7 linked regions of the Homo sapiens genome follow. The protein of the gene in region 1 interacts with the protein of each later gene in a pairwise test. Each region holds a gene or a part of one and is shown on either strand. Other genes may lie near its edges.

The links.
Region 2: the proteins of MYCBP2 (region 1) and PRXL2A interact in a two-hybrid assay, tested with the Homo sapiens proteins (one large-scale study listed by BioGRID and IntAct).
Region 3: the proteins of MYCBP2 (region 1) and SPRYD3 interact in a two-hybrid assay, tested with the Homo sapiens proteins (one large-scale study listed by BioGRID and IntAct).
Region 4: the proteins of MYCBP2 (region 1) and APPL1 interact in a two-hybrid assay, tested with the Homo sapiens proteins (one large-scale study listed by BioGRID and IntAct).
Region 5: the proteins of MYCBP2 (region 1) and DHRS4L2 interact in a two-hybrid assay, tested with the Homo sapiens proteins (one large-scale study listed by BioGRID and IntAct).
Region 6: the proteins of MYCBP2 (region 1) and AATF interact in a two-hybrid assay, tested with the Homo sapiens proteins (one large-scale study listed by BioGRID and IntAct).
Region 7: the proteins of MYCBP2 (region 1) and LSM14A interact in a two-hybrid assay, tested with the Homo sapiens proteins (one large-scale study listed by BioGRID and IntAct).

Annotation. Positions count from the first base shown.
Region 1 is NC_000013.11:77,047,626-77,051,094, forward strand, and holds part of MYCBP2 (E3 ubiquitin-protein ligase MYCBP2), read right to left. Parts: coding exon 3,372-3,469; intron 1-3,371. UniProt on the Homo sapiens protein: Atypical E3 ubiquitin-protein ligase which specifically mediates ubiquitination of threonine and serine residues on target proteins, instead of ubiquitinating lysine residues.
Region 2 is NC_000010.11:80,425,551-80,429,050, reverse strand, and holds part of PRXL2A (peroxiredoxin-like 2A isoform 1 precursor), read right to left. Parts: intron 3,186-3,500; coding exon 3,045-3,185; intron 1,720-3,044; coding exon 1,555-1,719; intron 1-1,554. UniProt on the Homo sapiens protein: Involved in redox regulation of the cell. Acts as an antioxidant. Inhibits TNFSF11-induced NFKB1 and JUN activation and osteoclast differentiation. May affect bone resorption and help to maintain bone mass.
Region 3 is NC_000012.12:53,066,604-53,069,390, forward strand, and holds part of SPRYD3 (SPRY domain-containing protein 3), read right to left. Parts: intron 1,702-2,787; coding exon 1,552-1,701; intron 1,103-1,551; coding exon 1,045-1,102; intron 90-1,044; coding exon 1-89.
Region 4 is NC_000003.12:57,265,729-57,269,228, reverse strand, and holds part of APPL1 (DCC-interacting protein 13-alpha), read right to left. Parts: intron 1,488-3,500; coding exon 1,437-1,487; intron 888-1,436; exon of another isoform or gene 832-887; coding exon 742-831; exon of another isoform or gene 1-741. UniProt on the Homo sapiens protein: Multifunctional adapter protein that binds to various membrane receptors, nuclear factors and signaling proteins to regulate many processes, such as cell proliferation, immune response, endosomal trafficking and cell metabolism.
Region 5 is NC_000014.9:23,991,929-23,995,428, reverse strand, and holds part of DHRS4L2 (dehydrogenase/reductase SDR family member 4-like 2 isoform 1 precursor), read right to left. Parts: intron 398-3,500; coding exon 296-397; intron 1-295.
Region 6 is NC_000017.11:37,014,954-37,018,453, reverse strand, and holds part of AATF (protein AATF), read right to left. Parts: intron 1-3,500. UniProt on the Homo sapiens protein: Part of the small subunit (SSU) processome, first precursor of the small eukaryotic ribosomal subunit.
Region 7 is NC_000019.10:34,210,504-34,214,003, forward strand, and holds part of LSM14A (protein LSM14 homolog A), read left to right. Parts: intron 1-3,500. UniProt on the Homo sapiens protein: Essential for formation of P-bodies, cytoplasmic structures that provide storage sites for translationally inactive mRNAs and protect them from degradation. Acts as a repressor of mRNA translation. May play a role in mitotic spindle assembly.

The sequences.
Region 1 (3,469 bases):
GATGAGGGAACTAGCACAGGGCATTGTGCCTAAAGACATGCCCACGGCTGCACAGACAGAAAAACCTTCAATCAGATAAAGGACAAGACCTGGGATAGAAATGCCTTTGTCCTTTGTATAGTCAGGGGGCTCTCTCCTTTTGTGGGCATAGGCACAGTGGGCTCCAGTGGGTTCCTGGGCCAGGGTCCCGGGCCAAGCTGAGTCACGCTGCGGGCCAAGACAGCCCACAGACTAAGCACATTCCTTCCCCTTTCCAGTCCATAAAAACCCTGGGCCCCAGCCTCACGGGAGCATCCTGTTTGGGCCCCCCTCTCTGCTGGCAGAGAGCTTTCTTCTTTTGCTTATTAAACTTTCGCTCTAACCTCACCTTTGTATCTGTGCTCCTTAATCTTCTTGGAGGTAGGACAAAGAACTCCTGGCATTATCTCAGACAATGAGAGACTGTTATATCTTGGTGCACTGCTGAGACTACAACATTAACACCAATGTTATGGTGTTAGGAGGTGGAGCTGTGGGAGGTGATGAGGTCATGGGGTGGAATCCATGAATGGGATTAGTGCTCTTCCTATCAATGAGACCCAGGAGAGGCCCCCTGCCCTTCCACGACAGCAAGAAAGTGCCACCTATGAGGCTGAGAGTGGGTCCTCACCAGACACCTCGACTGCTAATTCCTAGATCTTAGACTTCCTGGTCTCCAGAACTGTGAGAATAAATTTCCACTGTTTATAAGCTACCCAGTTTACAGTATTTTGTTATAGCAGCTTGAATGGATGAAGACTGATTATCTAAAAATATTAGAATTAACAGGGTTGAGAGTGGTTAGAGAATTGCTTCTTCTGTCCTTCTAAGTAAACTGTATATGGCCATCTTCCCTACTCACATCCCTGTGGGATCTCCTTTATTCTATTCCAGTTCTCTAAATGAATGGATGAGTTAGAGGGATGTGTGAGGCTGGGAGAGTATACCTCAATCTCAGTGTATGTTCTTAGGCCAGTTCATTAACCTCCCTAGCCCTCAATTTTCCATTTGATAACATAGGGATAATACCATCTACTCGCAGATTGTAAAAATGGAGCAAATATGTGTGAAAATGCCCAGGACCGAGGTCATTCCTTCCTTCTGCCAACTCTGGCTCCTCCCCCGCCTCCCTCCTGTGATTCCTTTGTGTTGGCTGCCCTGATCCTGTGAGGAAACCTGACCCTCCTCTCTCAGCTACTACCCACCACTGAGTTCTCTAAAGTGTTTCATTGTTAACTTCCTTATTTTTAGCATTCTTATTTCTGTTTTTTAACATAGAGGAAACTTTAAGTAAAATCTAGATTTCCCCTGAAGATACTGCTTGCCTTAAATCTTTCTCAACTGGAGGCTGGTTATCTCCCAAGCTCCTCCAGGTCATATGGCTACAACGTGTGACTGATTTTTCTCTTGGCTCCTATTTCTTTCCAGACCACAACCTACAACTTTCATTCAATAATTGCCCTTCCTCCAAGCTCAAGTCATCTAGAGTCATCTAGAATACTGCCCTTTCCACACTCCCTTCACTTGCTGACCTCCAGCACATCACCCCCTCCCTCCAAGCATGGCTCACATCTCTGTTCTGTCCATTATCCTCCATAACCTGGCTTCACATCATTCTGGCCTTGCTTCTTTCAAAGCCTGCTACTTCTATTAAAAAAAAACAGTATTTGAGGAGAAACAGTAAAACAATTTTTATTTGACATGAGCAAATGGTAAAAAGTAGTCATACTTGAAAAAACCCTACTTATCTTTATTTTGAAATGGATAGTATATGTTTCACATGGTTTAAAATCAAAATGTTAAAAATGATAACACAATTGGAAGCAACTTTCCCTAGTCTCTACCCTCATCTTTTTCTTGCTTTTCCCAATAGTTAATCAATAGTATTAGTTTCTTGAGTATCTTTCCAGGGGTTTCTTTATGTAAATATAAACAAATATGACTAGATAGTCTCATTTTCCCTCTTACAAAAGGCAGCATACTGCATACTCTGTTCTGCAATTTGCTTTTTTTTTTTGAAACAGCTCTGTCGCCCAGGCTGGAGTGCAGTGGCGCAATCTTGGCTCACTGCAACCTCCGCCTCTCAGGCTCAAGTGATTCTCTGGCCTCAGCCTCGTGAGTAGCTCGGATTACAGGTACCCGCCACCATGCCTGGCTAATTTTTGTACATTTAGTAGAGATGGGGTTTCACCATGTTGGCCAGGCTGGTCTCGTACTCCTGACCTCAAGTGATCCACCTGCTTCGGTCTCCCATAGTGCTGGGATTACAGGTGTCAGTCACACCACTTGGCCTAATTTACTTTTTTCATCTGATGCTATCTCCTGAAGATCTTTCCAAATCAGCACACAGAAACACCATCCTCACTCTTTTTTTTTTTTAAACTGATGCGTAATATTAGCCACTACCCTACTGGACACTAGCATTGTTTATACATTTTTATTATCATAGCAAAGCTGTAGTTAATAACCTTGTTTATTTGCCCTTTTTTACTGTCCTCACATTTGTAGCTATATCCCTGAAGAGGGAGTGCTGAAGGGTTGATACGCTGGTAATTTTGAGAGGCACTATTAAGCTGTTTTCCGGAGAGGTCTATCACTTGCACTCTGATAGGCAGCAGATGGCAGTGTGTGTTTTCTAGCTTTGACAACACGGTATATTGTGTTGTATGTACTTGTGCATGTATTTTCACTAATTTCAGATATATCTTATGTAAAATTCTCTCCTATGGTTGCACGGACCTCTCCTTCCACTTCTCTCACTTCCGTGAAGCCTGGTATTCCACCTCACCGTTGCCACTAGCCTCCTGTCCTCTTCCAGTATTTTCAGCTTCTTTTTGGTTTCATACTTCTTTCCCCTCAGCCTGCTTTCCATAGACAATAATTTCTCCTGTATTCTGAGTGGTTTCTTTAATTCCCTTGACTTTCTGATGCTCACTACACTACTGATTCCCAGCCATTCTAGATTAAATCACTTGGTTCATTTTATGGCAACGGTTCCAGGCTTCGTTAAAAAAAAAAAAAAATCACAGAATCCTTTTAAATGGTTCTGTAATATTGAACTTCATATGACTTTTTAGTGCTGAACAGCCATCTTTTCACCAATCCTTAGTAGACTTCATTCTCACTCCCCATGAGATCTGCTCCGTCACAGCTAACTTCTCACTCATGATGATGAGCCTGCTTCCTAATTCACCCAGAAAGTCATAAGCTTACAAGGATCAAGGAATTCCTCCTGCTTCTTTAGGCTAGTTTGAATTGAGTTTCTGTCACTTGAAACAGAGCTTTCATATAATGTTTACATAAAACTATGGTATATAGATCATAATCGTGATTTTAAAATATTAAAAGCATACCTGCAGGACAGTGTGGTAGTTCTTCCTTAGGAATGCTAGTCATTCTTTGAAAATCATCATGACAAGCATTACAAAAATGTGTTGTTCCAAAACAGAAA
Region 2 (3,500 bases), on another chromosome or scaffold:
GGGTGCCTGTAGTCTCAGCTACTCAGGAGGCTGAGGCAGGAGAATGGCGTGAACCCAGGAGGTGGAGCTTGCAGTGAGCCGAGATCGCACCACTGCACTCCAGCCTGGGCAACACAGTGAGATTCCATCTGAAAAAAAAGAAATAAAGCTTAAACTTGAAGGATTTCTATTCCCTTTTATTCCTCCCAAATTGGGAAGAGTATGTAATTATCAACATTAATAGTGAGATCCAACAATGCAGATAAACCCCATCTTTCTACAGAAAGAAAACACTTTCTACACGTTAATGTCATGTCCAAAATTGACAGAGACAGGCCTAGAAGTCAGGCCACCAGTTTCCAGGTCCTTCTCCCATACCCTTCCCTCATCCACTTGCTTTTTTGAGATGGAATCTTGCCCTGTCCCCTAGGCTGGAGTTCAGTGGCACAATCTCAGCTCACTGCAGCCTCTGCCTCCTGGGTTCAAGCAAATCTCCTGCCTCAGCCTCCCAAGTAGCTGGGACTATGGGTGCGCACCACTACACCCGGCTAATTTTTTAAGCTTTTCTTTAGTAGAGATGGGATTTTGCCATGTTGGCCAGTCTGGTCTGGTCTGGAACTCCTGGCCTCAAGTGATCCGCCCGCCTTGGCCTCCCAAAGTGCTGGCGTTACAGGTGTGAGCCACCGCGCCCAGCCCCCTCATCCACTTTGCTCCATCCCTGCTACACATCCTCCTGGCCTCTGCTGACACTGCCCTCCAGGGCAGGGGAACCACCATGGCTCAAGGCTGCCTAGACTCTGACACAAACAACTGCCTACCTGGCTCTTGGGCCTATAGAGACCCCATTCCTCCTTTCCACACCTTCCCCTAGGGCTCCATGCTGCTTGTGGAGCCTCACAGCCAGGACCTATAATAATAGCCTGTTTGCAGAGGAGTCAGATACCTTTCCTAGGCCAGCCCTGACACCAAGATCCCCACAGAAAAAAGCATCGTCTCCCCGCAACCTCCTTGCCACTTCCCCTAATTACGCCTGGTTCTATTCCTTATTTTCTCCTCTTATTTTTTTTTCTATCATCCATCCATGGTGGCCTGGAACACTGCAAGAGAGTAAATTCAAAAACAGAATAAAACTACGCTTTTGTTCAAGCACAGAAAACAAAACTTAAAGTCAGCAAACCTGGGTTCAGGCCCCAGCAGTGCCACCCATGAGCTGTGCTCCTTGAACTTAAAGTCAGCAAACCTGAGTTCAGGCCTAGCAGAGCCACCGATGAGCTGTGCTCCTTGTGCAGCTGCTCATCCCTTTTCAGTTCTAAGTTCCTTGTCTGCAAAATGATCAAACTGTCTCATGATGTCACTGTGATGAGTGAGTAGATTCAAGTATGAGGTACTAGCAGAGAATGATGTGTGATAAACAACAACTGCCTTCCCTTCCCTTCTTCATGTTCCCTGGCTTGCTAGAAGGAAGGCTAGGAGACCCAAAACAGGGAAAGTCAACCCCCACTCCAGCTTCTGGTTGGAGTCTCACACTCACAGACACAGACACCTACAGACCACAAGTAAACACCAAGAACTCACCTGCTTTCCTGATCCCACCACGAAAACTCCCCCAAGGATGAAGCCTTCTCCTTCCAGGTTTCCAGAGAAGCCTCCGTTCCAGGCTCGGAAGAAGTTGTACCACACTCCCAGACGGATAAATCCCATAAACATCATCTTCCGCCTTTGTGGACCATAGAACTTTTTCTATGGAGTGAGAAAGACAGATCCCATATGAGTACTCTACATGCCTGCCTTCCTCAAGGAGGAAACGCTCCTGACGGGGCATTGGTTCTCAGGCAAAGACTCAAAAGGCTGCTGGTTCCAGTCTTCTCTCCCACCCAACACACACACACTGCCCACATTCAGGTCCACTCTTTTTTTTTTTTTTTTTTTGAGATGGAGTCTTGCTCTGTCAGTCAGGCTAGAGTACAACGGCGCGATCTCAGCTGACTACAATCTCCACCTCCTAGGTTCAAGCAATTCTCTGGCCTCAGCCTCCCAAGTAGCTAGGATTACAAGTGCCTGCCACCATGCCTGGCTAATTTTTGAATTTTTAGTAGAGACAGGTTTCACCACGTTGGCCAAGCTGGTCTTGAACTCCTGACCACAAATGATCTGCCCACCTCGGCCTCCCAAAGTGCTGAGATTACAGGCATGAGCCACCATGCCCAGCCAATCCAGGTCCACTCTCAACTGCCAAGAAAACAGAACCCTGCTGGGTCCAGTTTCAGACCTCAAGGTAGGCCTGACCTAGGGTGACATCCGTAGCTTTCAATTCTGACTCTACCTTCTCACTAGTCTTCCACCTGACAGGATGGTAACAGTGCTACCTTCTGCAGAGGTGGGAGCAGAAGAGAAAGAAATAAATGAATTAAGGGACAGGGTGTGGGGCTTTGTACTAGGCCCCCAACAGTGGAGGAACCTGTTGGAGTTTCAGCTATTTCCTACTCTCCCAGTTCACATGGCAGGAAAGACTTAAGTAATACAGATGCTCCTCAACTTACAATGGGATTATGTCCCTACAAACCCATCATAAGTTGAAATATCTTATATTGAAATGCATTTAATACACCTAACCTCATAGCTTAGCCTACACTACCTTAAACATGCTCAGAACACTCTTATTAACCTACAGTTGAATAAAATCATGTAACACAATCCTATTTTAAAATAAAGTGTTGAATAACTTATGTAGTCTATTGAATATTGAATGTGAAAAACAGAATGGCTGTATGGGTTCTTGAAGAAATGTAGAAACTAAATGCTTATCACTTCTGCACCATCACAAAGCTGAAAGATCGTTAAGTCAAACCACCAGATGGTCAGGGACTGTCTGTAACTGAGAGGACAGCTTTAAAATGTCTGATCATGCTCTGCTCAGGGGGCTGAAAAAGGCCTTGCAAGTTCAGGACAGCTGAAGGGAAGGCCAGCCTCCAGCTCCAGGCCAGACATACCTGGGCCACCTGACTATCACACAGCTGAGCACAATCCCCAGCAGTCTGTGTCTAAAAGCCTCCCATCACACACACCTTTTCATCCAGGAAGATTTCTCCTTTGAAATAAGGCTGGAAATCCTTCACTTCAGTCCTGATGTGCTCCTTTACCACTGCATAGAGGGGGACGCCCAGCTGGTCCAACATGCTTTTCAGGGAGGACAGATCCGCAGCTTCCTGTAGAAGACACAAGGGTTCAGGGACATCTGTCCCAGCTGGCTGTGGGCCTCCACATAGGGTGTCAGGTTCCCTCTGCAGCCCAGGCTCCTTGTCTTCTCCAGTGGAAAGCAGAGGCAAGGCTCCTGTTATGGCTGTCCTAACCACAGCTTGGGAGCAGCCATACCCAAACACATCCTCTCCTCCTGCCCACAATGCTTCTCTCCTACATCATCTCCCAGCCCCTTCCCTGCACTAGACCAAACTAACACAAGGGCCCAGCAGACACACGCTCCTCTAGCCATAACCTTCCTTCTCTCTTCAGCTCAACCCTAC
Region 3 (2,787 bases), on another chromosome or scaffold:
CATGATTCCACAGCCCATGATGTCCCCTTTGTAACAGCGTGGCCCAAAGGGGTCCCCCACACCACTGCCATGGAAGATCTTCCCATCGTCTGTTGGAGGGAGGGGAAAGGACAAACACTTGAGGAAGGAGGGCTGACACCACACCCCCAGAGTGGCTCATGAAGCTGAACACTTCCCACCCCTCAGAGGAAGGGAAGGGTCAGGGCGGAAACAAAGATGGAGAGAGAGGCCGGGCGCGGTGGCTCACGCCTGGAATCCCAGGACTTTGGGAGGCCAAGGAGGGTGGATCACCTGAAGTCAGGAGTTTGAGACCAGCATGGCCAGCATGGCGAAACATCTCTACTAAAAATACAAAAATTAGCTGGGCGTGGTGGCGCCCGTCTGTAGTCCCAGCTACTCAGGAGGCTGAGGTGGGAGGATCACTTGAGCCTGGGAGGCAGAGGTTGCAGTGAGCCAAGATCATGCCACTGCACTCCAGTCTAGGTGACAGAGTGAGACTCCATCTCAAAAAAAAAAAAAAAAAAAAATTGGAGCGAGATATATGGGAAGGGGGCACCAAATAAAATAAAGAGACGTAGTATCCATCTGCTCAAGGTAAGGGTAAGGGAGAACCCTTAGGAAATGAGTCAGAGGAGGGGGCCCTAGGGAAGGAATGAACACCCAGGGAGGGCAGGCAGGGGGAGGTGGGTCGAGGAACTCTAGGCTCAGTTTTCTTCTAAAGAAAGCCAAGGAAACCAAGCAGCAAAAGAAAAAAGAAAATGAGGAAATGAGGGTCTGCAGGAAGGGCACGGGGGGACCAGCTCAGAGGCCTGGAATGTCCCATCTGGGCCCAGATCTCCCTCTCCTGTCCTGCTCCCCTGGTTTCCAGAGCTGGGAGGAAAACACAGATGAGGAGGAAGCACTAGCGATTTGGGAAGGGGAGGTCAGCCAGCAGCAGGGCAAACAGCAAGGCCATTTGTGAGGGGCCAGGAGAGGGGAAAGTGGATGTCCCTATGCCTCCACATCTCCCACCATCCCACCTTTCCCAGGCAGCCCGCTATTCACCTGCATGATAAGCCACAGACCCTCTGCTCCAGCCAGGGTGCCTGTTCTTGGGATAGTCCTGCACCAAGAAGAGAAAAGAAAATCTATGGTCCCATGCATAAACAAGACAGGAGAGAGTGGCGAGTAGCATCTGAACCTCTGGGACAGACCACAGCCCAGAGAGTGCCAACCCTGCACACTCATACCCTGCAGGCACTGGGGCTTCAGGGGAACCAGGGAGGGTGAGGAAAGTGTTAGTTAAGCTTTTAAGGCCAGAGCCATGGCATGTCCCACCCCCTCCCCCCAGGCCTTAGTGTGTGGTGCAGTCATGACCTGTCTCAGGTCCTTGGTCACATGGGGTGTGTACTCTTACACAGCAGACACATACAACTGTGTTCCATCTCAGCTTAGCACCCTCCCTCCAAAGCCTGGGCTCCCCTGGTTTCTCCTAAGAGCTTCCTGGTGCTGCCCCAACAGCCCCAGACCTGAGCAGCTCCATGAGCAAAAAAGCTCAGCCTTTGTGCCCACCTTCCGTGCCAGCCCCAGGGCGATGTAGCATTTCTCTCCAGGGTCCACGATCTCCACCTCGAAGTAGTGGCTGCGGGTGCTGAGTGGGTGCCGGGCCTGGGCCAGCCCCACATCCACGATGCTTTTGCCCTTCCCTAAGTACTCCAGCAGCTGTGGGGGAAGAGCCAGATGGGGGTCAGGGGACAGGCTGACACCCACCCTGGAAACCTGGGCCCAAGGCAGTCTGGGTCCCACTTTCCCAGGTCTGACAAAAACTCCTGGCTGAAAGGGAAAGAATCCTAGAGATACAATGTGGCCCCAAAGTTCTAGGCCAGCATGGAAGAGCAGGATGGGGTGGGAGGCAAAGGGGAGAGCACCCCTTGCTGAATGCCCACGCTGTCTTCCCCCACACACTTTCTGGGAGGCCGGGGAAAGCAGCACAGCTAGGGGAGCGGCACACCAGGGGGCTCTAGATGCATCCTCGCCCGCTGAAAAACCCTGCAGCCTTTCCTGCTGGGAAAGGTCCGCCCAGGGTCCCAAACACAGGGGAAAGGAGAAGCAAGACTAGCTGAGAGGAAACTTGATGACTTTCTCAGGGGGCCTAATGGGGACAGGGAGGATGCAGAAGTTAGGTGCCAACCCCAGATATTCAGGGGAAGCGGGTGAGTTCAGAAGCCAATTCTGCCTGGGATGGGCCTGACATAATTTCTCAAGGTCCTTGTTTTACTTGGCTGTGAACACAGCTGTTCTTAGCTGGGTCAGGGAGGTGCTGAGGGGAGCCCAGGGACCCAGAACGCCCAGCTCTACTCCCTCATTTCATGTGAGGGAGAGGAGAGGTCAAAATGAAGACAGAGGCAGGCTTAGCTGTTCCCAGCCCCTCATTGCTCATTCAAGTTGGAGTAGGGGCGTGGAGGTAGGATAGGGGAGATGACTGATGGGTTCTTGGGGCTCTTCAGTCCCACAATGGTCCTGCCTGGGCACGACGGGGCGGCAACCCCCAATCTGGGAGGATTTATTTGTCAGTTGTCATGGTAATAGTGGGGTGATGACTCAACCCCATCCCCTCTTTCCCCCACCTTCGGCCTCACCTGGGATTCCTTAATCTCCTTTTAATTAGCCCAACTGCCCCTCACGACTTTCTTCTACCCTCCCACCCCTGCAGCCCTGAAGGAAACATGTTGCCTAGGGACCTCCTCCACGTCTCCCTGGCAAGCTTTGGGACGCCGGCCTCTCACCTCTCACAGATTCCTGCCTGAA
Region 4 (3,500 bases), on another chromosome or scaffold:
ACCCCCACACTCCTTTCCCTTCCCCTCTCCAGCCCTTTTCTCCATCCCTGTCCAATTCATCTTTGCTAAATCAGGTGTCACCTTCCCTCAGCCTCGCCTATCAAGAAAGCCTCACTTCAATGTCATCTTTGCCACTTCCCTCTTCTTTGTCCAGAGAGCCAGCCCACAGCCAATGCTTATTGATCTGTTCTAAGCATCCCAGCTGTCTCCTCTTTTCTATTCCTACTGTCAATCTACAACCCATAACACGCTCTTACAATTTCATGGATCATTTAATGCATTCTTCAAGTTTTGCTCTGAAATTTGTCTTTTAAAATTATTCTGTTGGATGGACAATGATTTGACACTCCTGGCAATATTAAAAATATACATTTCATTATATATTTCATATAACATATATATTTATTTATTTCCCCCCCATAGAAGGCAAAATGGCTTTCAGCAATGGCAGTTAAGTCTACACAGCCTCTCAACTGCTTTGACAGAGACAACCTCCTCTGAAATATTAAAGTTCTGGTATATTTTTGAAACAGTCATATTACATGTCAACGTAACTATAATGTAAACATCATATCAAAAAACAGATGTGACCCTTTTCTGCTATGGTATGAATCATCTGTTTATGAAGTGGCTGAACAAGCAGAAACAGCCCTTCATTTGGAAATTCAAATCTGAAAGTCATAGTGCTGAATTAAGTCTTCACAAACAACACATAAAGATCCAGACATTAGGACTGTATACCTTTTCAATCTGTTTTTGTTTATTGAGTTCTTTCTGTTGCTTCTCTTTTACTCTCTCTATTTCTTTTTGTTTTTCTGATGCCCTACGATCCTAAAGAACAGATGAATAAAACTAATGAATTAAATATGAAATAACTTTAAATTTTAGACATTTCAGTTAATATCACATGGTAACCTTTCAATATTTTTTTGCATTTATACATAAGAAAGCACATCAACAGTTTATATTCAATGGTAAACAATTATCCAAATTCTAAATGCTATGTTGGTAATAGTATCACTGTTAACCTTGCTTAGCAAAATCATTTTATTTACTTGCTAATATGAAAGAGCTAATATACTATTTTAGTTAACATTCTTGGAAAATCAAGCATCTTGGATTCCTTTTTTTTTTTTGAGATACAGTCTCGCTCTGTTGCCCAGGCTGGAGTGCAGTGGTGTGATCTCGGCTCATTGCAACCTCCGCCTCCCGGATTCAAGTCATTCTCGTGCCTCAGACCTCCTCAGTAGCTGGGATTACAGGTGCACGACACCACACCCAACTAATTTTTGTATTTTTAGTAGAAATGGGGTTTCACCATGTTGGCCAGGTTAGTCTCGAACTCCTGACCTCAAGTCATCTGCCCGCCTCGGCCTCCCAATGTGCTGCGATTACAGGTGTGAACCACTGTGCCCAGCCACATCTTGGATTCTTACCAGTTCAGCATGCAAAGCTATCTGTTTTGCCAGTCCAACAGAATCACATATCTAAAAAGAGAAAAAGTATGAAAAATTCAGGCAGTTCTCACAACAAAGCAAAAATGTCAAGTATCCAAATAACTGATGGAACTAGTTTTATAACTAATCCTAATACATTGCTTCAAGCAAAAGCATATTTAAGAATGCTCAAGCCCCCAAACCAAGGCTTTGTATGTTTTCCTTGAAGTCTACAGGATTCCACTGCTGACTCTCACCTTCATATATACCCCACTTCTTGTTATGTCAAATTCATTACTGTCACAGTAAGGCCTACGAGGAAGAAGCATGCAGCTGCTAATGCTATTCTCAGCTGAAGACATCTGAAAATGGCTGGTTTTGGTTCCCAACATAATGTTTGGTTCCCAACATAAATGAGAGGCTAAAAGATTGCACCAGCTATCAGTGGCAGGGAAAACATGGGTCTGTAGAGTCAGAAGGCCCAAACCATCAGCTTGGCTCTATTCAGAGATGCTTTGCTCAAGCAGCTCAGTAAGCCTAGGCAAAATTTGGGAGTTTTTTCCAAAAATCTTAGAATTATATAAGAATTTTATTTACACAAAAAACTACAAAACACTGATGAAAGAGACTGAAGACACAAAAGAACATCCCATGCTCATGGATCAGAATAATATAGTTAAAATAACCATATTGCCCAAAGCAATCTATAGGTTCAATGCAAATAGCCAAAGCAATCTTAAACAAAAAGAACAAAGCTGGAGGCATCACATTACCTAACTTCAAAATATATTACAAGGCTATAGTAAGCAAAACAGCAGGGGATTGTTATAAAAATAAGACACATGGCCAATGGAACAGAATAGAGAACCCAGGAACGAAGCCACTTGTTTACAGCCAACTGATCTTTAACAAAAGTGACAAAGAACTTTCACTGGGGAAGGGATATCCTCTTCAATAAATGGTTCTGGCAAGATTGGAGAGCCACATGTAGAAGAATGAAACCAGACCCCTCCCTCTCACCATACACAAAAATCAACTCAAAATACATTAAAGACTTAAACATAAGACCCAAAACTATAAAAATACTACAAGAAATTATAAGGATCAGAGCAGAAATAAATGAATCTGACATGAAGAAAACAATACAAAAGATCAACATAACAAAAAGTTGGTTTCTTTGAAAAGATAAAACTGACATTTAGCCAGACTAAGAAAAAGAAGACTCAAATAAAATTGGAGATTAAAAAGGTGACATTACAATTGATACTGCATAAATTCAAAGGATCATTCGTGGCTACTATGAGCAACTACATGCTAGTAAATTGGAAAATCAAGAAGAAATGGATAAATTCCTAGACAAATACAACCTACCAAGATTGAACCACGAAGAAATCCAAAACCTGAACAGTCCAATAACAAGTAACAAGATCCAAACCATAATAAAAAGTCTCCTGGTAAAGAAAAGCCCAGTACCTGATGGCTTTCCTGCTGAATTCTACCAAACATTTAAAGAAGAACTAATACCAATCTTACCCAAAATGTTCCAAAAAATAGAGGAGAAGGGAATACTTCCAAACTCATTCTACGAGGCCAGTATTACCTGATACCAAAACCAGACAAAGACATATCAAAAAAAGAAAACTACAGGCCAATATATCTCATGAATATTGATGCAAAAATCCTCAACAAAATACTAGCAAACCAAATTCAACAACACATTAAAAAGATCATTTATCATGACCAAGTGGGATTTATCCCAGGAATGCAAAGATAGTTCAACATATGCAAATCAATCAATATGCTACATCACATCAACAGAATAAAGGACAAAAACTATTTAATCATTTCAATTACTGCTGAAAATGCATTTGATAAAGTTCAACATCCCTTCATGATTAAAAACCCTCAAAAAAACTTGGTATAGAAGGAATATAGCTCAACATAATAAAAGCCATATATGACAGACTCACAGCTAGTATCATACTGAATGCAGAAAAACAAAAAGCCTTTCCACCTTTTAGATGGAAGATGAGTAATCAGGTAAGAGAGGAAAAAAGGCATCCA
Region 5 (3,500 bases), on another chromosome or scaffold:
CTGTTGGAAATCAACAAGGCAGAAGAGCATGCCAGGGAAGAAGCCTGGGGAGGGGAGCAGTGGCTAATGAAGAGCAGATAGAAGCAGAGAGAACTAGGAGCAGCAGAAACGAATGAGAAGGGCAGAGAAAGAGCCACCCCCACCTGCCCTTTGCAAGGTGTGCTCCAGGTGTGTGGCACGTGGCAAAGAGTCCTCACATTTACACTGCCCTTGAGAAATGCATTCTAAAAGCAGATGGAGTTTGTGCTGAATGTGTCCCGAGGCCCCCTTCCGCGCTTCTTTAATCCCCTCTCACCTTGTCCCACACCTCCTCGGTGACATCCATTAGGCTTCCAAAGAAAGGGTTGACAGCAGCATTGGAGACTAGGATATCGATACCTCCATGAAGCTTCACAGCCTAGAGAGAGGGGTAAGGTCTGGACCAGGGCTGCAGTAAGTAAGGGAGGTGCATTTACCCATGTTGATAAAAACTTCCTTCTGGGCAAGGAGCTGTGGCTCATGCCTGTAATCATAGCACTTTGGGAGGCCAAGGTGGGAGGCTCACTTGAGCTGAGGAATTTGAGAGAAGCCTGGGCCATGCAGCGAGACCTTATCTTTATATTAAAAACAACAACAACAATGACAACAAAAGCTTCATTCTTAAGAACTATTGTCAAAATAACTTCTATTTCTTAAAACATCTTTTTTGAAAACTACCCTAAGATCTGCCGCTAACCATTTAAGGTTGGCTTCTTTCTTTTTTAGATGGAGTCTTGCTCTGTCATCCAGACTGGAGCACAGTGGCATGTTCTCAGCTCACTGCAGCCTTGACCTACTGGGTTCAAGCCATCCTCTTGGCTCAGCCCCCCAAGTAGTTGAGAGTAGAAGTGCGTGCCACCACACCCGGGCAATTTTTGTATTTTTTGTAGAGACAGGGTCTTGCCATGTTGCCCAGGCTGGTCTGGAACTCCTGGGCTCAAGCCATCCACCTGCCTTGGTATCCTAAAGTGTTATAGGCACAAGCCACCAGGAAGTTGGCCCTATTTCTTTTGCAGTCTTTTCTTCCCACCTCCTATTCTTCCAAGGCTGTCTCTGACGCTCTTTTCTTTACACTTTCCCTTTGGAAAGCTCCTTCATTCTCATGATTTCAAGTCTCACCCCAAAATCTATTTCCAGACCCCTCCTCTTCCTTTCACACTGAGTTCCACCCACATTTCTCCAAGTGCTTACTGTCCAGTTCTCCCTGAATAAGTTACCATTATCTCAAAGTCAATCTGTCCACACTTACCTGAATGGAAAAACTGGCTTAAATAGAGCTGAAGAAAGTTACCCTGGAGGGGCCTTTGAGATCATCTATTCCAGTGTCCTTAAGGTGGAGATGATGAAACAGGTTCAGAGAATTTTCTCAAGATCTTATACTTCAGTAGTGGCACACTGGGGCTAGCTAAGAACAGGAGGCCTGCTTATTCTGTGTTTGGGAGGGGTGAAGTGATTTTTTCAGGGCACAAAGCTAGTCAGTAGTGGAAGAAGTGAGGTCAGTCTCCCACTTTGTAGCACAGAGCTAATTCATAAGAGACCTCTGAAAGTGAGTTGGGGTCATTAGTAAACCAGCTGCCCAGGAGAGCCATGATGGGAGAAGATACCAGCCTGAATTTAAAGCAATTCCATATTTGGTTATGATGTCATTTTCCCTGTCTCTGTCTCTCTCTTTTGACCTGGAGGCATGAAAGATTCAAGGCAGAAACTGAAATTTAAATTGAGAAAGCGAAGAAAGGCAACATCTCACCTCCTTAATAAGTTATAAGTAGATAGTGAGGCGTGTGCTAGAGTAATGAATGGCCAAGCAGAATCTGCCAACAAGGGTTTTCAGTACAAAGCCACCCTGAAACTAGACTTTGCATTTGCCCGGAACTGGCAATTTTGATGCCTTGGGCAAGTTGCAGTATGTGGGCCCTTGGTCAACTTTGTGCTCTGGATTTGGCACAGAGAGGGGTGTTACTAACAATGTACACCATCTGCTAGCTTCCCGTTTTAACTAATTATTCTTGTTAACTAGGTGCTAAGCTCAGTTGTTTCTAGACAGTGGAAGGAATGCTGGGTTTGTCAACGTGTTAATCTAACAAAATTTACAGTCACATAATCTTTTAAAATCGGTATTAATACTTTCTTGCACCCTTTAAATTTTGGCATCCTGGCACAAAGCCAAGTCACCTGGGTTGGCTCTGTGTAAGTCTCACCAATGGACTTGTTACTAGGGAGGTGCAGAGTAAGTTAATAAGTGATGTGCACTGTGCTCAGTACACATGTGTTTGGGCTGGGAGGAGACAATGGATTGCTCTAGAATCACCTGGAGACATTTTCTACTCTGCTGTATACCCCATACTCCTCTCCTTCCAGGTCTGTCAGCACAGAGATGGGAGGAGGCTGGGTTTTGATTGAACAGAGACAGCAAACCATAAAAGATGAATGAGGCTGGGTGTGGTGGCTCACACCTATAATCCTAGCACTTTGGTAGGCCCAGTGGGGAGGACCACTTGAGGCCAGGAGTTCAAAACAGCCTGGGAAATACAGCCCCAACTCTACAAAAAATTTAAAAAATGAACTGGTGTGGTGGTGCATGCCTATAGTTTTAGCCACTTGGGAGGCTGAGGTGGGAGGATTGCTTGAGTTCAGGACTTCGAGGTTACAGTGAGCTATGATCATGTCACTGCACTGCAGCCTGGGCAACAGAATGAGGCACTGTCTCTGGAAAAAAATAAAAGAAAGTCTTCTAAGTCTTATTCTAAATTGTGTGATCACTACACTAAAGCGGTTAGGAGCTGTTTGTTCTGTGTTCTGATAGTTATACATTTTTAAGAAAAAATATAATCAAGCAGATAGGCAGCTACTCTGGTTTCCACTTACAACACCAGTGAGAAGCTTCGTGGTGTGCAGATGAGGAGGCCACTGGGTAGTATCCATTCTCAGGGCAGTGGCTTTTCTTATTGCAGGGTAACATGTGGCAACTGGCAGAAGACATTTCAAATTGCTGACAAGTATTCTATCATTCTCTTCTCTGACAATGGTCATACAAACTACCTGAGAGTCATTTTTGACTTCTCTATTTCCCACTTTTTGACATGGGGTTGGAAAATCTTGGTTCGTTTCCACTAAATGTCTCTTGGGCACATCTATTCCAGTCCCGCCGCCACTGCTCTAAACCTGGACGACAGCAACAGCTTCCTCACTGATGCCCTGGATTCGGTGTCTCCTCTGTATATCCTTCCTACCAGAGCCAGATTAGCTTTCCTAATAACCATCTTTCTCTTGCTCAAAACCTCACATGGCTTCTTATTTGCTGCAAGAATGTGTAAACATATCCTTTTAAGAGGCCATATCCTTTTAAGGTCCTTAACGTATCCTTTTAAGAAGCTATGGCCGGGCACAGTGGCTCACGCCTGTAATCCCAGCACTTTGAGAGGCCGAGGGGGTGGATCACCTGAGGTCAGGAGTTCAAGACCAGCCTGGCCAACATGGTGAAA
Region 6 (3,500 bases), on another chromosome or scaffold:
CTTTAGCCACACATGATACCAACACATTCATAGCCACACAAATTTTAAGAGGGAATCTAAAGAAAGTCATTTGCATACTGCAAATATACCACAGAGGATTAGTCTCTCATCCAATACAATTAACTCCATGGGAGTTATTCTAAATGACTCTCCTACTGTCATTTTAAGCCTGACTCCTCTGCACCCAGTTGAAATCTACATCTGTACCTTTCATACAGACTTAAGAATCTGCACTGAATCTTAAAGTCCTTGGGCGAAGAGAAGCAATGGTTTTAAAAGTTAAACACTAAGGGAGAAAAACCCTGAATTACGATAATAGAACTATAAGTGCTATATGCAGAGAAAGAGAAACAGAGATTAAAATTCCAAAAATCTTCTGAGAGAAATTTAAGAGAAGACGCTAAGATAAACTAGTTCTGCTAATCATCTGTCAATAATCCAGGTTTGGCCTTAAAACTTGTTTCTTCATAAAAATTAGCAATGATTTTGTAGGTGAGGCATGGTGGCAATAGAGATATTTCATCAAATCAAATAGCTGAAGCCTGTGGGCTTCAGTGGTTCAAATGAAGAAAGAGAAATAAATTCCTCTGAAAGCAGATCTCTTTCTAATTTCATATGTTTATGTAAGTAGGCACTGGAAGAAGTAAAACAAATTTATAAAAAATATTCACTTCCAAAAGATGAATCTTTATTGCAAAAGGGAAAAGGATATCTCAATTGCAATTAGAAAACCTCCCATGATGTTTTTTCATTTGCTTATTTTGGACATTATTACTACAGCAATTATGTTTAAGAATGCAGGGACCAGAAGCCGCTGGTTTTATTATCACTAGAAAACAGCAAGCTATTTCTCTACCCTGTTTATCTGATTGATTCCCAACATCTTTCTGGCAGCCAATCTATCAGTTTATCTCTCCTACTTCATCACAGTCACTTCTGGCAGCTAAATACAAGATCCAAATCCAGTGTTACACAGACATATGACACAGTAAACCTATGTAACACTGCTGCTGTGTAAACAGCTGCCCTTAAGGCTAAGCAGAAATGGGCTTCTGGTTCCTAGTCAATATTCTGTCAAAAGCAAGGAGTAGGGGGAGTGAGGGGGAGTGGTTAATAATAATAAAGAAGAAGAAATAAAAGAGAAAGAAAAATAAAAAGGAAGGAAAATAATGGAATAACTGCATTTCATTGCCCTTACCTCGTTCCAGCCATACAAAAGATTACAACAACCGTTCCTGGTTTTCCTAATTTTCTCAGATCCCTTGAGACTGGGCAATCAGGGTCACCGGGGTGCAAGTGCTCATGGAAGGCTGCCCCAGCACAACAGGGTGATCCTCGGGAAGAATATGCCCTTGCCAAAGGCTGGAAATTGGAGCTCCCCACTGCAGTGGTCTCTGCAATTCCAACACCAAGTTGGTGCAGCATTTACTTTCAAACACTTTGTGTACTATACATATTCTGAGCTGCATTTTCGCACACAAGTGCTTTGCATAACTATTTTTACTCATTCATGACTTGGAAGATTGTTTTATTGGTCTATCTAGCTAGGTCTAGTTTATTCAGTCCAATATTTCAGAAGATTCTGTTGTGTCCATGGTAAGAAAAAGAAAGCAACAACAACAAAAAATACAGTTAAACAAATGATTCCCGTGGCTATTACTATTTTCCCAAAGCTACCACTATCACTGGGTTTAAATTTAATTAGAAAATTGCTTTCAAAACAGTTGCTAAAAAAAAAAAAAGAGATTTGAGATATTGGCTGAAGAATTCAATTTTACTTCTGATTTTAATTTGTATAGCTTTAACTTTACAAATAAACCTTTCTACTAAAATTCAAGTTTCTGTTACAATTATTAGAGCTTTTTATTTCAACAATGATGATATAGTATTTGTAGTAATTTTCTATGTGATTTGGAAAATGGAGAGAGAGAAAATGTTTTTGCTCTAGTCTGTTAAAATTCCTCCAGATAATCAATTCGGAAAGGCTTGATTATACCTCTAGTTCTAAGGGAAAATCATAGATACAGTTAGGTTTTCAGGTTGGCCACAGAAACCTATTTAACCCATACCAATATACATGAGGAACAGGACTAATAGTACTATTAAGCATCTAATCAACATTTATAATACTTTCATTAGAAAAAATGCATGCTAGAAACAGTTAAAAATGGCAGATTGAACACATTAGTTTATCTCTTCTCAACCCCTCTAAGAGACAGTTGAGGAATAAAATAAATATTAACTCCTAAGAAAAAAGAGAAAAGGAGCACTAATGTGTGCATATTTTCATAAATTTTTCCAAGACAGTAAGGAGATGGAGAAGTTATCACCCAAATGCCCAGAGTGAATAAAGGTGAAGATGAAGCTAATTGTATTAGGCCGCAGAATTCCTGTGAGGATCAGCTCTCTGGCAGTTACCACGCAAGGTGGGAAAAAGAGAAGGAGCAGAACCACTTGGGCCTCCTCCATTATCCCACACAGCCAAGTGACTAACCACCTCTACCACCCACCTCCTCTCGTGAGAGAAAAGAAATTTTATTCTTTGGAAATATTGAACCACAGAAGCTCCAGAATAGAGGATACCAGGCAAAGAAGGCTGGAATGAGGTACAAGGGAAAGGCTCTATGTTAATCTCTGAAACCTCTCCCTTTCTCCCACCTCATTTGTAGAAAGCTAACATCCCATTCTATAATTTCCTAGGCAGGAAAGCAGAGGAGCCTTTTCTGGAAGAAACTGAATGGTGTCTGCCCTCCCACCCCCAAAATTAGATTTCAAAGTTGCTATGGTCTTCTGCATGTGTCTCCCAAAATCCGTATGTTGAACACTTAATCCCCAATGCAACAGTATTGGAAGGAATGGCCTTTGGGAGGTGACTGAGTCATGCAGGCTCTGCCCTCGTGGATGGGATTAGGCGTCCCTCTAAAAGGGCATGATGGAGGGAGTCTGTCCCTTTTGCCTTTCCACCTTCTGCCATGTGAATTCCCTCAGAAGAATTCAGCATCAAGGCACCATCTTGGAAGCAGACAGCAGCCCTCTCCAGACAACAGAAACTGCCACCTTCTTGTTCTTGGACTTTACAACCTCCAGAACTGTGAGAAATAAATTTCTGTTCTTTTAAGATTACCTAGTCTGTGGTATTTTACTATAGCAGCACAAACAAATAGATATATAGAAAACAAAGCAAACAAATACAAATTCTGACATCCAAGGCTACTCTAACAAAGAGGTCAGTTCACAGCATAATTATATTTAAAGAAGCCAAAAAGCTCTGCCCAGGTTTCAGAGATTCCGAATAATAAACTTTAATGCTTTACTCTTAAATATGAACAGACAGTTAAGGATCGCCTGCATCTGAGGAAATCCTCATGCACAAACCAAACAAATAGAAAAGAGACTCAAGGAAGCAATGCAGAGAACAAAATAAATAATTAAAAAGGAGAAAAAAACCCCCAAAACTTACAATGAATATCCCAAGAGTGGGAGAGGGTATACTTTGATAA
Region 7 (3,500 bases), on another chromosome or scaffold:
TCAAGTGATCCACCTGCCTTGGCCTCCCAAAGTGCTGGGATTGTAGATGTGAGCCACTGCGTCCAGCCTACTTGCTTAATTTTTAAACATTCTAAAGATTGTTTGTTTGTTTTTTGAGATAGGGTCCTGCTCTGTCTCCCAGACTGGAATGCAGTGGTGTGATCATGGCTCACTGCAGCCTCTACCTCCTGAGCTCAGGCCATCCTCCCAATTAGCTGAGATCACAAGCAAGCACCACCAGCTAGTTTTGTAGGGACGGGGTTTCGCCATGTTGCCAAGGCTGGTCTGGAACTCCTGGGCTCAAGTGATCCACCCACCTTGGCCTCCCAAAGTGCTGGGATTATAGGCATGAGCCACAGTGCCCGGCCTATTCTGGAATTTTTAGTTAAATCAGGAACACATGAAAAAGAAGCATAAATATTGAAATTAGCATTATTCATGAAGAATGAGAACTAATAAGGAACTTAAATTAGGCACAGGCAAAATGTAAATTAAATATACAAAAGTCAATAGTTCTGGCCGGGCACGATGGCTCATGCCTGTAATCCCAGCACTTTGGGAGGCCAAGGCAGGCGGATCGCCTGAGGTCAGGGGTTCGAGACCAGCCTGGCCAACCAACATGGTGAAACCCCATCTCTACTAAAAATACAAAAATTAGCCGGGCATGGTGGCGTGCACCTGTAATCCCAGCTACTCAGGAGGCTGAGGTGGGAGAACCCGGGAGGCAGAGGTTGCAGTGAGCCGAGATCACGCTACTGCACTCCAGCTTGGGCGACAGAGCGAGACTCCATCTTAAAAAAAAAAAAAATTTAATAGTCCTAAAGCCTAATCCATTGATTATGTAATGAGGAGAAAAGATGATTACAGTAATGCAAAATAGAAATTGTATACAAAATATATAATAAGAAATAAGTTGGTCATACTAAGAAATATGACCAACTTCTATGATAAATAATGTAAGACAGGGACATAAAAGTTGCATGTAATGGAAAAAACATATCTTATTGCTAGATAGAAGAACAAGAACAGTACCAGCACTTAGGGAGGCAAAGCCAGGATGATCACTTGAGCCCACGAGTTTGAGACCAGCCTGAGCAACGTAGTGAAACTTCATCTCTACCAAAAAATTTTAAAAATAAGCAGAGTATGATGGTGGACACCTGTGGTCCTAGCTACTCAAGAGGCTGAGACAGGAGGATCACTTGAGCCCAGGAGGCCGAGGCTGCAGTGAGCCCTAACTGCACTACCTCACTCCAGCCTGGGCGACAGAACCAAGACCCTGTCCCCCCCCAAAAAAAAAAGATGTTGGGAAGACTTTACTCCTCATAGTTAACAAATTTATTGCAAATTAATTAAAAATCAATGCAAATAGAATAGTAGGAGAACTTAGTAAAACAGTTTATCTTTAAAATAAACATGGAAGTGTGGCTGGACATATTTGAAAAATAAAAGTAATGGGTTTACTGACATGATAATAAAATGTAGCAATGCAGGAAAAAAGAAAGAGATGAATAGAAAGCAATAGGCAGGCAGAAACAGATCCGAGTATAAATAAGAATTTATCCTGGGTGCAGTGGTTCATGCCTGAAACCCTAACATTTTGCGAGTTCAAGATGGAAGCCAGGGATTTGAGACTAGCCTGGGCAACATACCAGGACCCTGTCTCTAAAAAAATTAAAAATTAGTTGGGCGTGATGTGTGCGCCTATCAGCTTGAGAGGCTGAAGCTAGAGGATTGCTTGAGCCCAGGAGGTTAAGGTGGCAGCAAGCTGTGATTGCGGCCCTGCACACTAGCCTAGGCAACAGAGCAAGAATTCATCTTAAAAGAATTTAGTAGATGATAAAGGTATTATTTTAAATTAGTGGAGAGAAGGCTGTCTGTTCCAATTAATAATGTTGCCTGATCATTTGGAGAAAGTCACTCTAGATTCTTTCCCTCATACTGAGCACCAAAAAATATATAAATTTTAAATAGATTAAAATGTTAAAAATTTTGAAGTATGTGTTTATTAAAAGAAAGAGGTGTATTTACATAAAGTTATGACAAATGACAAGTCCTAAGAGTTTGCATTTAAGTTTTATCAACTAAAATTGCTGAATTTCACAAAATTAAAATTCCTAGAATTTTAAGTGTGATAAGATTGTGAAGATAGCTCAAGGGAGTGTGTCTATAATATGCAGAAATCACTTCTGGATTTATTCCTAATAATGTATCCAGTATCACAGTATCACCTGTATTTCCCTGTTTATAACAAAACTGGCATCATGATGATTAGTAGGCCTTAATAGTGAAAAGGCTTTTTAAGTACACAACAAATGTTTCTGTACTTGCTCCGATTGCCCCATTGCTTGTACTTCTGTAGTACTTGTGAGCCATAGGATCTTTTCTCAAAAGCCTTGATAAAGAAGTTTTATAAACTTATAAGATGATTTAATGTAGTACCATAAAATTAACTGTAGCAGTAGGCTTTTTCAGGAAGACATGTGAAATAAAAAAAATTAGCAAGGTGTGGTAGCGCACATCTATAGTCCTAGCTACTCAAGAGGCTGAGGCAGGAAGATCATTGGGTCCCAGGAGTTAGAAGTTGCAGCGAGCTGTGATTGCGCCACTGCACTCCAGCCAGAGCAACAGAACAAGACCCTATCCTGTCCCTAAAAAACAAAAAACAAAATGTGTTTTATAAGTGATTATAAAATGTTTTTTTCATAGGCCAAAACTTACATAAACCATGATTTCCCATTATAATCCAGTGGAAAAATTGTAATGCTTCTATTAGTGGTAACTTAATTTTGAAATGTTAAGTAGATTGTGCCTGTGTCGGTTTCTGGGTTTTGATAAATGATCATTTATTTGGCTAACTTTGCCATTAATGGCTGAAATGGTATTGCACATTTGTAAGTGCATACTTTAGATAATCATAAATTGGGGAAATATTACTAATAAATTATCCCTGAATCATCTAGGTACATAATAATGCATTGTCAGCACTCACCAGTTGTTTGACACCTGCAAATATGCACAGATGGACAGTAACATTTGCAGCATATTTGGGGGATTTTTTTACGTGAAATGAGCATTTTTTTTAAGCAAAACATTATATTTTGGAATAATTATGAGATGTGAGTGCCTAAGCAGAGATGTACAGCAAACATTATCAGGACAGAAAGCATGATGGGAGCACCCGATGTTACATTCTTCAGTTCATGCTGTGACCAGGCGACCTCATAAAAGGAAAAATATAATGTATAAGTACAAACCCCATTTTTTGTTTTGGCTCTTTTATATTTGTATTTTTTGAGACAGAGTCTAGTTTTGTCACCCAGGCTGGATGCAGTGGACCGATCTCGGCTCACTACAACCTCTGCCTCCCAGGCTCAAGCAATCCACCCACTTCAGCCCCCTGAGTAGCTGGGGTTACAGGCATGTGCCACCACACCTGGCTAATTTTTGTATTTTTTTTGTAGAGACAGGCTTTCGCCATGTTGTTCAGGCTGGTCTCG